Linked DNA regions of Homo sapiens: region 2 is linked to region 1. Evidence: fine-mapped expression QTL. A gene starts in region 1. The other region holds a variant in brackets. All regions are shown on one strand. Distances are from middle to middle.

Region 1 (8,540 bases):
CGATTGTAATCACAGTTTTCTCTTTTGGAAGAGGATGTGTAATATTGATAAAAGAAAAAAACCTCAAAACAGGAAAAATACATAACGGAACTCACACTTTTCTGGTGTTTATGGTATTTTTTTTTTTAAATTAGCATGGTGCCAACATGAAGAACTATGTATACTTAAAAATATCTTCACTTAAATGCAGACATTTTTGGTCATTTGAATGAGAAAACAAGGTATAGAAAAGTTATCTCCTCTAACAAAGATTTGTGAACTTTACTTGATAAACTTTCTTAAATTTTATAATAATCGAACATTAGTTAAATCCCTTCACTTACAATGATGTCCACTGTAATGTTTCTCATATATTTTACCTATATTTTCATCTCAGGGCTGAGACCTAAAAATGAAAAAATACATTGTTTTTGCTTTTATTGAAGCTTTTCACAGAACAAATTCTGAAGTCTTCAGAACATATTTTTATATCCTATCTGACTGTATTGTGTGTACAGTGTTAAAACTATATAATTGTGCGGTTGTATTCTTCCAAAATACATTTGGCACTGCCAAACCATTCAAATACATGAATTTTGGAAGACATTGGGTCAATTTTTGACAGCATACACAACAGAAAATGTAAACTCCTTTCTGCTGCCTGGGAATTACAGTGAACAACAGTGATGCTAACCTCAGAATTTTTCTTAATTTCATTTTAAAGGGTGGGAAGAGCACCCACACATTTCTTTATTAAATTCCACTGAGATTCTAATGTTGAAAAAAAAATTTATTTCCCAGAACAGCTAGCAGCATTTAAAATATACTTTTGTTGTTGTTGCTGTTTGCTTTTTAATGCATGCCTATTCCTTTACAGAGAGGTGAGGTCCTGTTAGTACTTAGTCACTTGCTTTCCTCTGCCACAAAGATTATGGATCTAAATGACCTCACATAAAATAAATGTGGGGGATGTGAGATGAACACTTTAGGGAGAGTGAGAAGCAGAGGCGCAAAGCTGCTTCAGCTCAATAGGAGATACCAGGCCCCAAAAAACTTCAGAATTGTATTTCTCAGGGAAGGTGCTAATTTAAATGCATTGGTTTTCAAATTCTCTCCTTTTGTCTACTGATTCACTGATTGGCTAGTCAGCAAATGTTTAATGAGTACCTACTTGGTCCAGGAACTACTTGCTTTAAGTGCTAGCTTTAAAACCAAACTGGACCTTCAAGTTTTCTTCACCATTACCCAATTATTTTATTATTGGATGTGTAATATTGATAAAAGAAAAAAAAACCTCAAAACAGGAAAAATACATAACGGAACTCACACTTTTCTGGTGTTTATGGTATTTTTTTTAATTAGCGTAGTGCCAACATGAAGAACTCTTTGTGATTTTGTGATTTTGAACTAAATACCATGAGCAAAGAAATAATGTCTGCACTCTTTACTTCATAATACTTTTTCATGCTAAAAAAAAAAAAAAAAAGAAAATCTGAATTTTCAATTAAAGGGACACTGTTGGTAATTTGCAAATGAGGAACCAAGACCCATGCTAACTAGTTTGTAAGAGTTAGAAATAATATTAACTCCCAATGCCATCCTCTTTAAACTCAAACTTCCCGGCTTCTGAAGAACTTTGATTTAATTTAATTGGAAGAAATGCATGGATCCCCATGAGAAAATGCCCTGGGATCAGCCATGGAAGGAGAGTAGGTAAACATCATGGTTCTTTACTAATTTCTTTCCATATAAAAAAGGAGGTTTCTAGGAAATTTCCAGAAACTTGATTACAATTTCTTCATCACATACTGATTTGCTATATATTGTTTTTCTAGCCAGGTCCATGTTCAAAAAGGGGTGAAGACTTGAGAGTATTACCCAGTGGGGTGTGTTTGTGTGTGTGTGTGTGTGAGAGAGATATTAGGACTTAATGAAATAATACTATATACTATAGGAGTGGGACCAGAAGAGAGAGAGGAAGAGAGAGATGGAAGAGGGATGGGTGAGTCAGTCTTGCCCAAAATGGTTGTATGCTTTGGCTAAATTCTCAAAGTAGTCACTCAAAGGCATATTTGATTTTGCATGTGAATAAACTAATAACTCTTGCTGAGTATCATTGTATTTTATCCCAACCAATCCCTCTCCAGAACTCAGAGCAGCTTTATCATAAATAACAATTATTGGTAAAGGTATAGTGTAACTTTACATGAAAATTGTTTTTTTCAAGGTACATACATCATGATCAAAATTTAATATTTGATGTAAATATTTAAATATCTTAGGAGCAATTATTTGATTCTCTCCCCTTTTCATATGAAATAAAAACAAATGTATGGCATTGCGTTCATGACAGTATTTACTGCTTAGCAAAGAAAAAAAGAAGTATTGAGGCAATTATTTGAATAATTATTTGAAAAATTATCTAATTAAGGAGGGAAAAATGTAAACGGTTAGCTCTAGGACACACCAGAAAACAGTTCATAGCACTTTACTGTTACAGGCAGGGAGGTTTAAAAAAATCTTTAAGATTTGTCATAGCAAGCTTTCTTCTCTTGGTTCTTGAGCTATGAAGTAGTCTTTTTCTACTCAGAGCTAAATCTTTAAAAGTAATACCCCATAATCCAAAAGTTAGGAATTCCTGAGTTTAGCTCTCACAAAAAATAATGTACCATCTTTGCAAAGCATACTGCGAAAGGAGGTCTTTTCAAATGTCTTGTCTCAAATGGGAAACAAACCTGGGACCATATTGAATCCTGCAGTTTTTTTTAATGAGGGCAAGAGTAGGGAAATCTTGCAGATAAGTCTCCTAGCTCAGACCTGGCCAAGTGCTCAGTAATGGGCAGGAGGGCAGGCAGATATCAGAGAAAGCTGCCTGTGTTCCTAACTGCAGGAGGATGGAGAAGAATCTCTGCAATTCCTCAAAAACTTTCTAAAATGTAAGGTGGACAGGTCATTTTTAAATATTGTTGCTGTTCAAGAATTGAGCCATAATGGTCCCTGGCCTCTTTTTTTATAACTAATCATACTTTTAAAAGACTATTTTTTCCAAATTTGTATTGCAATTAATGTGTGCCTGAACTATAAGACATTTTCTATCCTCCTAATTATGAAAGCAGCCTGTGTCAACCAATGGTTTATGCAGAGATTTAAGATTCCAACACACAGTTGCAAAGATCTGAAGGAAATATACAAACTGTTACACACACAAAGCAACATACACAAAACAGCAAGCACAAATATCAGTCACTGCCAACAGTTCACTATCCTAAGCAAAACATAGTTTGCACTTCTATAGAAGCTACTGGCTTCTAGAAAGAGCAAGAGTACCAGCAGTCATATTTAGCGTCTATGGTGTATTAACATATAAAGAAAACAGCAGTCATTAAAGACAACCCAGCTTTTAAAATACATATAAGTCCTTGTCCAGCAGTTAGCCAATCAGAAAGCAGGTCACATCTTGTTAGCTGTATTAAATACACGAAACGTCATGAATTCTCTATGGCTCTGTTGACAATTCAAGCCAACTGTGTTTTATCCCATAGCACAAACTTAATGGAGTCCCTTCCTAGAGTTAAAAGTCAATCTTCAATCTAAAATTCCACCAGAGCTATTCCCTAAAAGCTCTTTGGCATAAATCTTGTGGTATTTATACTCTGCAGAGAAGACTAAATTCCTAGCAATTTCCACTTCCTAAAGTGACTTTGGTGCACCTATAACAAACTCCTTTTCCGAACACTTCCACACAAAGCCCCAACTTACAGGCAGATGGACAATCCAGCAGCAAGACCTGCCAGCTGAGCTAGCACAGAGAAAAAGTCAACTGACATAAAATATTTAAATTGCAGGAGGCGAGTCTGGAGTTTTGCATTTAAAAAGTTCTGAAAGTCCTGTTCTCTCTGCTCCCAGAGTTGCTGGCTGCCTAGGAGGCTGAGTCTCCCTCTCTCAGGCACAAGATCTCAAATATGCAAAAACTAGAGCTGACTTGAAAGCTGAACCAGCTCCTGTCCTAAGGTAGAGTGATAGGGGGGCACGGCCGACAGCAATAGGAGAAAGTCTAGAGTCCCCTTGCCCCAAGCAACTGGTTTCTGATTTTAACACTGAAATATACAAACATGTGTCCCTCCAGGGCTAGTTCTGAGAAGTAGGCAGGTTTACTCTTCTGCCCCTTTTTACCTCGATTTTGGTGACTCTGAAAAGTAAATACAGGTCAAAGCAGACTTCCTCTAGGATTTGTAAAAAAGAAAATATATATATATATATATATATATATATATATATATATATATACACATATGTATATATATATATATATATATATATATACACATATGTATATATATATATAGCCAGATGCAAACAATCACAAAATTCCTTGGAATTATATCTCAAGAAACACCAACAGGACTGACTCAGAGCCTGTAAAACACCAGAGTTCTGGAAGAGCAACATTTCTGGAAACCCGGCATGTGAATCAAGTGCTGGGTTGTCTCAAGATTCCGGCAGAAACTGTCCTCTGCTACAAGAGTTGCTGTGCCTGGAAACCCAGCGTCCAAACTCGTGGATTCATCCTGGCGCTCATTTCCACGTACGTGGTAGTATCAAGTGGGACACTTCCCATAGAATTCAGCCAGAAACCCTAGGAAAAGCTCATGCATAGCTTAACAAAAATACACAAACACATCCCCAAGGTTGAAGTACTTACCTCTGTGCGAGACTGCAGTCTCTTGTTCATCTCATAGATTCGGTACTCTGGCTGTACCATGTATGGTGTATGCCTCCTATAAAATGGGCCGAAAGGAGAAGAATAGAAGGGGTCATGTGGTGTGCTGGACATCTTGCCTGCTTTTCGAAAATCAAGCTAAACAGAGTATCAGTAACGTCCATGCAGAGCACATGGGCTGTGTTCTTCCCAGTACAAAGTAGACGCACGCACACACGCTCACACACACACAGAGGCAGGCAGGCAGGCAGGCTGAACACGCTGGCTGGGAACTGCTGTCGGAGCCCTCTATAGCAGGAGAGGAGAGGGAGAGGAGAGGAGGGAGGGAAAGAGGGAGGGAGGGAGGGAGCACGGGAGAGGAGGGAGAGGGAGAGAGCAGGAGCTCCAGAGAGGGAGGGAGGTTGGTATGGAGGAAGGGAGGGAAGAAGGGAGGGAGGGAGGGAGGGAGGAGGGAGGGAGGGAGGGGGAGAGAGAGAGAGAGAGAGAGAGAGAGAGAGAGAGAGAGAGAGAGAGAGAGAGAGAGAGAGAGAGGAGCTGGATAGCTTTAGGCACCACTGCTTGTTTTTAAAGAAGCAGTTTGTGGAGAGGTCATTTCCTGTCCACATTGTAGACTAGTTCACAAATATAATTCTCCTCACAGTCTGACAAGAGGTCTAAGGTTTGGTTTTAATTTTTTTCCTCCAGCCAGGACCCTTCACAACCTGATTGCTAAGCTTGTTAGCATAGAGGTGGTCTAACCGCTACATGAGCCGCTCACCCCTGACAACCACACTGTTGTAATGTATCAGAAATGTTGATTACTACAAAATACAGAAACACGGGCACTGTGGTGCCCCGAATTGGGACCGGTGATTCACTCACATGCAGAGATTTATTTCAGCACTAATCTCCCTATGTAGTTTTGCTTTACTTGCTGTTGTTCCAAGGGCTGTTATATTCTTTGCCCTCCACTCCATCTCACTCCCATCTCTCCCCACTCACCCCTCTTCCCAGCCACCTCCCTCTTCTCCAAAGACTTCATTCAGGCCCTTAAGGTGCCTGGGCATTTTCAGGTAAAAACAGTCGTTCTGAATGTGGAAGGTATAAAATACACTTAAGGAGAGCAATGGTCTTTTTTCCCAGGAAGGAAAAACAAACAAACAAACAAACAAAAAACCCAAACAGACCTCCCAATAAGACAGGAAAAGCAAAGAAGGAGAAAACTGCCACAAAAATGACCACGGAAAATTTGGTTGAGAAGGAAATTGCAAATAATTGAATGGATCATCCCCAGATAACATGTCCAACTCTTATGGAGACAAAGTCTGTATTTTCCAAGATTGGTCAAGTAAACAAATATTTTCCCAACTGTGGTATATGATAACCATAAGAAATCCCAACAGCCCATGGAAGGGGAAAATCTCTATAGAGAATTAAACAATCTATAAAATAATCAAATTCTGCTAGAACCCACTATAACCAGAGATACGACACTTAAACAAAGCCCAGCCACACAAAATTTAAATGTATTGAGCTAACACCTAGGTAGGTCAGTGGTATTAAGGAAATAAAGCAAAGGACCACCAAAAAGCATAATGAATTCAAGACCTGAATGCAAATGCATGCAAATGAGACATTTCTTCTTTTTAATAAGCAGATTAATTAACTTTCTGCCCCAATCATGGCTTGGGTATCTCCAAGTCACTAGCCAACAGGGGATAGAGTATTGCTAATTCTGCAATTTACACTCTTAAAAATACTCAGACACAGAAAAGTGTATTGCTGTCTTGATCAGTCCTTCTTCATAATTGCATGAAATATTTGCTGAGTCCACCCCAAACTTCCAGCAGCGCAGCCTAACACACTAATGTCGCTTCCCAGGATGAGATTAGGGTAGGTATTACACTAAGGCTGCTTGGAACTTGCGCTAGGAGACCCCAAGGCAGGCGAGAATGCTTGGTTTCAGGTTTCATTACAAATCCGAAAGCTGGACCAAATTTGCTGCAAGGTTTGTCAAAACACACAACCTTCTAAAGACAGGATTTCAAACAATTTTGGCATGATTTACGTTTTGGTATGGCAGCCACTGCAAAACCTAATGGTTCCTTATGTTTAAACTCTCAAACTAAAGACATTCTGAAAGTTTAGTGTCTGCCTGAGTTTGTGTTAATGTGACCATTTCAGTGCAAGAATGAAAGTAACACCTAGGCAGGCCTGTGCAGGCCAATAGTAACAAAAAAAAATGAAACAGTTCAAAAATCCATTTAGGAAGGGAATCCCTCTCTGAATAAGGTTCTGGTTTGCTCTCATTTGTTTCTGCAGACCATTGCCAATTATAATTGGAAATATTTCTTGCCATTAATAGTGAAAGACTCTCATTTCAGAACTATCTGAAACTTGATAATGCTGATCCATATCCCTGATTCTCATCCCCGTTATTTCAGGAGTCTCCGAACTGGTCCCCCTGCCCACAGATTCACAGTCCTCTTCTAACTTGTGGTCTGTCCTTATTCAAATGAGAATGTGGATTTCAGATAAGTGAAAGCGATCATGTCCCATGTTTTCCCCCTCAGTGTTTCCCTGCTGCCAGAAGGAAAACGTGCAAGTTCCTTAGGAACATGGCATACAGGGCTCGGTAAGACCCGCACTTCTGTGCTGTCTCTTTCTCCCTCTGTCACATACACACACACACTCACACACACTCATTCATTTACTCATTTGTGTGTTCATTCATTTATTTATTTGCTATACTTGATCTTCCTAAACTTGCAATCTTTCTTATGCATGGCCACATTTGTACTTCTGGCCCTAGTTTACCTACAAACTGCTACTTATCCTTCTATTAAATTAAATTGTCTCCTCCATAAATCTTTTTAAATTACACATTCATTTGTTTATTTATTCAACAAATATTCCATTCACAGTGGATAGAGGCAGAGCCAACAGCAGGGCCAGAGCACGTTTCAACCCTAGCTCCACCATCTAGTTGTCGCGTGAACCTGAGCAAAGGACTCAGTCTCTCTGCACCTCAGTTATCTCATTGCAAGATGAGGACAATGATAGAAACTAGTCTATAAGATTGTTGCTAAGGATTAGCAAATACATCCAAATGCATTAGAACCCTGTCATCTAAACGCTCAAATAATAACATGATAGGCCGGGTGCAGTGGCTCACGCCTGTAATCCCAGCACTTTGGGAGGCCGAGGCGGGCGGATCACGAGGTTAGGAGTTTGAGACCAGCCTGACCAACATGGTGAAACCCTGTCTCTACTAAAAATACAAAAATTAGCCGGGTGTGGTGGCACGTGCCTGACCAGCTACTCAGGTGGCTGAGGCAGGAGAACTCCTTGAACCTGGGAGATGGAGGTTGCATTGAGCCGAGATCGTGCAATTGCACTCCAGCCTGGGTGACAGACCGAGACTCCGTCTCCAAAAAAAAAAAAAAAAAAAAAAAAGGAAAAGAAAAACTAGCTGGACATGGTAGTGGGTGCGTGTAATCCCAGCTACTCAGGAGGCTGAGGCAGGAGAATCGCTTGAACCTGGGAAGTGGAGGTTGCAGTGAGCCGAGATCTCACCACTGCACACCATCCCGGGCAACAGAGCAAGACCCTGTCTCAAATAATAATAAAAATAATAATAATAACATGATTATTAGGTACCTGATATCTGCTTAGGTTCTAGGGATCATTGGGAGGCCAAGGTGACATAGCACACAGGCTACCTGCCTTCCTGCCCCTTGCCATCTAGTGAGGGCAAGGGAAAGACAGTGTAGAAGAGCTAGTAAATATTTGGGAACATAATTTTAAACTATAGTGCAAGCTCTGTGCGGTGGCTCACGCCTGTAATCCCAGCACTTTGGGA
Region 2 (8,000 bases), 26 kb before region 1:
GTGCCCAGGTTTGTAGTGTTTTCTAGGTAAAGAAGGATTCCAGGAGATATAGCTACTTAAAGAATCATTAACTTGAGATGGTAAAGAGGGCTCTTTAAAATGTAGAAATAAGAACCAGTAATTCATCGGCAAAAGATGATAATAGCACCAAGATTTCAAGGTGGTAGTTGGGAGCAATGGTGAAGAAGTGATCTATAATCAAATAGCTGCACTCCAAGACACTTCAAGACAATGAAGTCCAAGGGTGAAAAATGTCGGGCATTCATATCCAAGTGGATATGAATATCCTCCTATGCACATAGAAGATATCAACAATCCATGACAACATTCTATCCCTAACCTAACCTGACCACTTCAAAAACAATCCACTAGCATCTGTTGGAGCTGTCACATAAAATGAAATCCATTTGCTATCCCTGATAAAGTCCAGACCTCTCAAATTACCAAAGCCCAGAAAGATTGTCATTATAAAGCCCTACAGTAGTTACATATGCATTTTCCACACCTTTCTTTTAATCACATTAGACTCGTTTATCTTAGTGATTTAAGTGGACCTTAATAGATTATCTATTCTAGTTTTATCTTCAAGAGAGTAGGTATCACCCATTTTATTTTACTTTTGCGTCAGTTGAGCCTGAGTAATGATAACAGGCTTACCCATAGTTTCTGTGCTTTAATATCTCAGGCAAGAACAGGGACCAGACCTCTAAATTTGGGGACTCCTGATAGGACAAAGGTATTATTACTCAAAAACTTTTTTATTGTTCCAACATCACATTCTCAGGTTCCAGGGGCAGCATTGTCAGAATGCAAATTAACATCTGCTGACGGGGGTGTATTTTGCTGATTAAAATGCACAGCAAATACTATTCTCTGTATAAACTCTTAATATCAGAGAGGTCAGAGTCATCACCCCCACCCAACCCCTTCTGCCACCCCAGACAGTCACTCAGCACTGGAATCAAAGTCTGGTGGCAGAATCTTAAGGCAAAGCAAAACGAATATTCACTCAGGCAGATGGGAAAAGTTGCAGATTGTGTGAATGGATTTGTCTCTCCTCCTCTTTCACCCACACTTCTCCTTTCAAAGGATGAAGACTGAAGTGATTGCAACCATGCAGAGTATAACACAGAAGCACTTGTTATTCACATAGGACACCAATTGCCAAAGACCTTTATCTCAGTGCCTTTCGTTAGCCCAGTCTTTTAACTGTTTTTAGGATCTGTTTCTTCTCATAGGATGATGATGACGATAATGGTGGTCATGGTGTTGGTAATGATGTTGGTGATAACGATGATGATGCTGTTGACAATGATTTTGGTGATGATGATGATGTTGATGAAGATGATAATGAAGAGGAAGACGTTACTGGTGATGATGATGCCGGTGATGAGAATGATTTTAATGAAGATTATGATGAAGATGATGACATTATTGGTGATGATGATGCTGGTAGATGATGTTGATGATGATGAATGGTGCTACCATTTGCCAGACACCATGCTAAGTGCCTCAGTGGTTCATAAAGTTTCCTTCAGTTAATTCTCAACAATGCTATGAGGTGGGCATCATTATTGTTATTATTATTATTTTAATTATCCCCATTCATCAGGTGAGGAAGCTGGGGCCTAGAGAAGTTAAGTAACTGCCCAAAGACACACAGTAGTAAAATGTTTTAAATTAGAAATTAAGCTCAGGCAGGCCAGTTCTAAGGGCAGAATTCTAGTACACAAATGCAAAAGTCATAAAAAAAAAAAAAACTCAGAAATGCTCGAAGTTTTGGGAAAGGTGCTATGCTGACCCGTCAGACATGGAGGTGATAATATCAGACAACTTTCTTCAGAAATGAGGGTTGTTTGGAAGAGAAAATTAAATCATGGGTGTGAAGGTGCTTCTAAAACAACTATGTTATATGAACACTATGGAACAGTATTAATTCATCTAATTCCAGTAACACCAATACAAGGCAGTTACTGCTACTATCAACGTGCATTTACAAATGAGGCAACAGACTCATCTTCAGTTAGATGACTTGGCTGAGGCATGGTCGACCTGAAATCCAAGCGCAGAGAGTTCAGTACTTGGGCCTGAAATCAAAACCACTGCACCATGGGTGTTTCTAAAATTATGACTATTATTGAGTTACGAGCTTCTTACGTCACAAAAGTACAGTTCACGTGCTTCATTTTTTGAGTTTGGAGCTGGTCATACCAATACGTAGATGTTCACTTTACCCAGTGATATTTTTGGTCGCCTTCCATCTTAAGTATTTGAGGAACATCCTGCTGTTTTAGGTTGCAAATTTGGAAGTGATCTAGAAAGTCAATGTGGTGATCCAAAAACAACACTCAGGATGTTCCTTGAGCCTGTTTTCCTACTTGCAGTATTTTCTTAGCCATGTATCTCAGTCTTTGGGGACTTGTTCTTTCAGCGTGATGGTGACATGAGCCTATGTGAGTGGGTGGCCATGGTGGGATGCCAGCCAGCAGCAACCCCAAATGCTTTATTGGAAGAAGCAGCCATTGTGTTTTGTACAAGGCAGCTGCAGAGGCGATCCACGACATTCAGAGGTGAAGGAAGGAGATGCAGAAGATGCCGTGGATTCAGTGTTTGGAAGACTAACCATAACCATATCAATAGGAGGGAATAGTGAGAAAGCCCAGGAGCCTGCCACATGGACGAATTCAGTAGGCAACAGGACTCGCTGCATTCATTACACAAAAAGGAGCGAAGGCTTATCCAGATCCAGAGATGGTTAGAATTGGAAGGAAGTTTAAATGTCATATTAGTCCAACTTCCGTATCTTACAGATAAGAAAAGTGGTGGCCAGAAGGGGAAGTGGCTCTTAAAAATCACAAAGCTAATTAGGGGCTCTGCAATCCTGCTGAAGGGGTGTGTATGTGTGGCCTTACCCAGAGCATATGGGGACCTGCGGTCACCCCCACTCCCCTTAACATCCCTCTTTACCAGGTATAAAAGCCCTCTCTGATCTGGCCTCACCATCTCTGCAGCCTCCCTCCCTTCTTGTGTCCACTCCATACCCACAACACTCACTTCCTTGCATTCTCTTTATTTATTTATTTATTTATTTTAGATGGAGTCTCGCTCTTGTCACCCAGGCTGGAGTGCAGCGGTGCAATCTCTGCTCACTACAACCTCCACCTCCCAGTTCAAGCGATTCTCCTGCCTCAGCCTCCCAAGTAGCTGGGATTACAGGTGTCCGCCACCACACCTGGCTAGTTTTTGTAGTTTTTAGTAGAGACAGGGTTTCACAATGTTGGCCAGGCTGGTCTCGAACTCCTGACCTCAGGTGATCCGCCCACCTCGGCCTCCCAAAGTGCTAGGATTACAGGCATGAGCCACCATGCCCTGCCTCCTTGCGTTCTTTAAACCCAAAAAGCCTATCTCTGATTTAGACCTGCATACACTGCTTCCTCTGGCAAATGAGTGAGACCCATATGTTGCACTCAGCAGTGTGTTGCAGCTCTCCTATTGCTAAATTTTCAGAAATTTTGTGAGACAGCCTCTAACTTCCAATTAAACAAATCATACTGAAAGCAAAGGTAATAACTAGTCCAAAATTCCTAATTATTTTGCTACATGTTACTATTATTGGTGCCCTTGGGGTTATTTATGTCTGTTGCATGATGGAAATACTGTATAATGGTGTGTGTCTTTTCTCAACCCCACACTTTGAATATATGTAGCTTCAAATGAGCCATAGTGGGAGTATTTACTACAGAAATTGGCAAATGCTAAAATGCAGGGCTTGAGTTTTTATTTTGTTGACTGTGTAGATTTAAGAAAGTGATGCAAAAATGTTAATAATATGAATTAAGTATGAAAGTTTGCATGCCTGAAGCTGTAACATAATGAGTGGCAGAAAATTTGAGGAAATATTCTTCCAGTATTCGAGAAGTATTATCCAATTCAGGAGAGCAGTGACTCATGTCACTGATGAATGAATGAAGTTCAAATATTCATCTCTGTTGTTTCATTGTCTTCTTAATCATTAATGTAAAAGAAAATATCAGCCAACATTCATGTCAAAACCACTCTTTCTTTTTTTTTTTTTTTTGAGACAGACTCTCGCTCTGTCACCCAGGCTGGAGTGCAGTGGCACGATCTCAGCTCACTGCAACCTCCGCCTCCCAGGTTCAAGCAATTTCCCCTGCCTCAGCCTCCCAAGTACCTGGGATCACAGGCGCCCACCACCACGCCCAGCTAATTTTTGTATTTTTTAGTAGAGAAGGGGTTTTGCCATGTTGGCTAGGCTGGTCTTGAATTCCTGACCGCAGATGATCCGCCCACCTCGGCCTCCCAAAGTGCTGGGATTACAGGTGTGAGCTACCGCGCCCAGCCCACATCAGAACTACTCTTATTCATCAATGAAAATTACATTTGGGCTATGACTATAAGAGTTCAGCAGAAATCAATGAAAGCATTTTGGGAGAATTAATTGGCTATACAGAATTTATAATAAAAAATATTGTATATTTTATTATTATCCATAAACTGTAAACTATATATCTTTCTATTAGTAAAACTTATAATAAGCGTATGTATGTATATACACGCTCTTTTTTTTTAAAGACCCAATTGTTAAACATTTATCCATAGAGCTCTCATTTCTGTATTTTGCATGGGTCTCTACTCAGGGACATCTTCTTTGACCACGTTATCTAAAGTAGTGTCCATCATATGTCTCTATCCTGTGACTGTATTTTTCTTCATATTATTTTTATTCTTTTATCTTTATTTTTTATTTTTTATCTTTATTTTTCTTCACCACAAATGAATACCTGAACTTCAATCATTCATCCATAACATGAGTTACTGCTCCTCAGAA[T/C]TGAATAAAACTTTTCAAATACTACTTAATGCTATGGCATATATATATTTGTTTACTTGTTTATTGTATGGTTCCTTCAACTGAATTGTAAGTTCTATTCTGGTTAAAAGAATCTTTGTTGTTATCACTGCTTCTTTTTCTCTTGTGCTGAGAATGGATGACTGGCATAAAGCAGATACTTAACAACAAAAAAAAAGTTTTTAAAGAATGAGAGCAATAGACCTTCTCAGATTCTCAGGTAAATTCATGGCATCTTTTATTATAAGTCAGTGTAGGCAGGACTCTCAATCCCTTTCATACTGTTACAATCAAAAATAATATTTGCAAATAGTTTAGAAATCAGTATAAGGCAGAAACAAACCAGAGAAAAGATTTCACAGCCATGACTATTAATTAACTTTCAGTATGTTTTAGCAAAAGATGACAAGATCAGAAAATATGTTTCCTTGAGCTCTGCAAGCAAAGCAAGAAAAGCAAAAGATCCACTATATTCAAAGCAAGGCTGTCCAGATCATTGTCGGGGAGCCCACGTGCTTCTAAGTCCAATTCTAAGAGTCCCATTGACAGCCCAGTGACAGGGGAAAGCAATCAGATAAGGAAAATGCTCACCATCTAATGGGGGTTCAAAAAGGCCAAGTGGCAGGGTGGTAAAGATGCTGTGAAGGAGAATGGTGTATCGGGCATTTCCTCTGCATTTGAGAAACAGCTGAGCACCCTGGGAATATTTAGCCCAGGGTGCTATATTTAGCAATGAGAAGACCTGGAGCCTTGGGATGATAAGCTCCTCATATTTGGATAGTGGAGGTCTCTCCTGTAGAAGAGAGAATGAACTTATTTTGTACAAGTTCAGAAAAGGGCTGGTGAATGATAGTGACTAAGAGACAAACTTGACTTTAATTTTTTTACATTTCTTTTAACTAGAACCCTAAGTCAATAAGATGGATTGCCTCAAAATGGAGTGGGCTGCCTATCACTGAAAGTGCTGGAGCACAGGACAGGGTTGAGCTAGAACCTGGAAAAGAGAACCTGGCATTCGGCCTGGGGTTAACCTTGACGGTGTTAATGGTCTCTATTCACCAGTTGATCTTATGACAAAAAAAAAAATGTTCTTTGTCCTTAGGCTTTCTATTCTTCTACTTTATTCCTTAAAAAATTCAACAAAGAAAAACCAAATTATTCCAATTCCTAAAGAGTTTTCTAAAACAAGGAGTATTTTGGCATTTCTTAATATTGTTTTTATATTTTATATTATTCTGCATATTTTTAGTCTTAAAACTTAGTATTTGAGAAAACAGCATTGGTGGCAAAGTTTTTTTTCATGATCCTATTGACGTATAATGTGTAAATCACAAAATTCATGTGTTTTAATTTTTAGTAAATTGCCCAAGTCATAACAATCATCACCACAACCAGTTTCAGTGTTTCAGCAGGTTTTCATGATCCCAACATGGTCTCTCATGTCAATTGCAGGAATTACTGTTTCCATCCACGTAATCTACAATATGTGGTGTTTTGTGAAAGGCTTCTTCTATTTAGCATAATGTTTTTGAGGCTCGTCCACGCTGTAGCAATGGATCCAAATTTCATCCTTTTATGGTCCCTATTGTACTGATATATCACATTTTGTTTATCCAGTCATCGCTTAACAGACATTTGGGGTTACTTCTGCTTTTTGACTGTTACGAACAATGATAGCATCATTTAAAAATATCTCCAACTCCCTACACAAACTCCAAACCAAAAACTCGTGGAAAACATTTATAACAAAATTAGATGATAAGATCATCATGGCAATGCATAGGCTGGAAAATAGGCAGATCTTAAGATTCAGTTTTATATTATATTTAATAAATAAATAGAATATATTTTAAAGTGAGAAAGAAGGTTACAAGACAAGAAGTACAGAAAAATCCCGTGTCTATATTTATCTATAAGTTCATTAATTCTAAGATGCACATTTTTTCCAATATCAATCTGATGTCTCAATGCATGTTTTACAATTAGACTATGATTTACCCTCTCTGTCAAGCCATCATTGTCATTGTACATGTACAAATATTCAAAGCAGAAGCATCATAATTTGCAGAATGGGTGCGAATGGTTTGGAAGAAAAGGAGGGACAGATAGATCACTCTTTCTCCTCTCAATCAAATAGTTGAGGGTAAGAGTCAGGGAGAGTGCGCATCCAACAAGATTCGCTACATTCCTGAAAATCAAATTCAAAATTAGGCAAGCTCTACCTAATGCAAAGCCTGCTCAGAGACCTGCATCATGTCTGTTTTCTAAAAGTATTATTTTGAAGAATGCCATCTCACCAACATCCTTGGTGGCACAAAGGTTATACTACGTGGAAAATCGTGGACAACCATGAGTTGAAGAACAATTCTAAACCATTAGACCCTGAGTGTAAGTCTTAGTAATACCTAACCAATGTATTTCATTTATAGCCTTGTTTATGTATGCACAAGAGTGGCACTTGACAAAAATTGGTCCAATTATGTTTTTAAAAAGCTCTTTCAATTTTTTCAATAAAACAAAAATTATATTTGAAAAGAAAAGGGGACCTGACATCCCAAAATACAAGCCAGTGGAACAAACCACTACAGCCATAGACATGTATGTTATCAGGGTCTAGGCAGGAAGGAAGCTAGAGAACATCTGATAGACCAGAAAATCAGGGAATCAAAAACAGCCAACAAGTATTCACTGGACAGCAAGGCAGGCCAGTCTGAGAATCAATAGCAGCTGGGGAAACATAGTGTCTGGGGAAACATAAGAGAATTAATACCAAAAAAGTCAATTAAGACTATACAAGGAAAGGGGTTATCATCAGGGTAGGGTTTCTGGGGCTGGCAAAATCTGATCTGGGTGGTAATCAGATAACCTCATTTGATGTCTTAAGCTATACAAAATTAATTTATCAATTGAAAAATAAATTTTTAAAGATTACCATGCTACTGGATAAAAAGCAGATCCTGTGGCCTACTCCGGACCAACTGAATCAAAGAGTTCAGAGTGAAGCCAAGGAATACTAAAGAACATTAAAGCTCATGGAGAAGAAAAAAGAAAAAGAAAACTTATGATCAATTTTACTTAAAATTATTTTTAAAAATCAACTGCATTTTAGAGTGAATCATCTGTCTAGTCACTA

Evidence for each region. PIP is the estimated chance that this variant, and not a neighbour inherited with it, causes the effect.
Region 2: its variant is fine-mapped to the expression of LDB2 in whole blood (TOPMed, PIP 0.98).

What each region holds. Positions count from the first base shown.
Region 1 is chr4:16,893,673-16,902,212 of GRCh38, forward strand. It overlaps LDB2 (LIM domain binding 2), which reads right to left and starts at 4,973. Exons shown (of 8, transcript NM_001290.5): 1 at 4,682-4,973. The coding sequence starts at 4,813. LOC107986188 (a long non-coding RNA gene) reads right to left here and starts at 1,448. Exons shown (of 2, transcript XR_001741396.2): 1 at 1,274-1,448; 2 at 1-62.
Region 2 is chr4:16,867,560-16,875,559 of GRCh38, forward strand. The region is part of intron 1 of LDB2 (LIM domain binding 2); the gene reads right to left. Among named protein-coding and RNA genes, the nearest start is that of LDB2, 27 kb to the right of the region's middle. RefSeq lists an enhancer at 885-1,444. The variant T/C (reference allele first, on the strand shown) is at 4,850.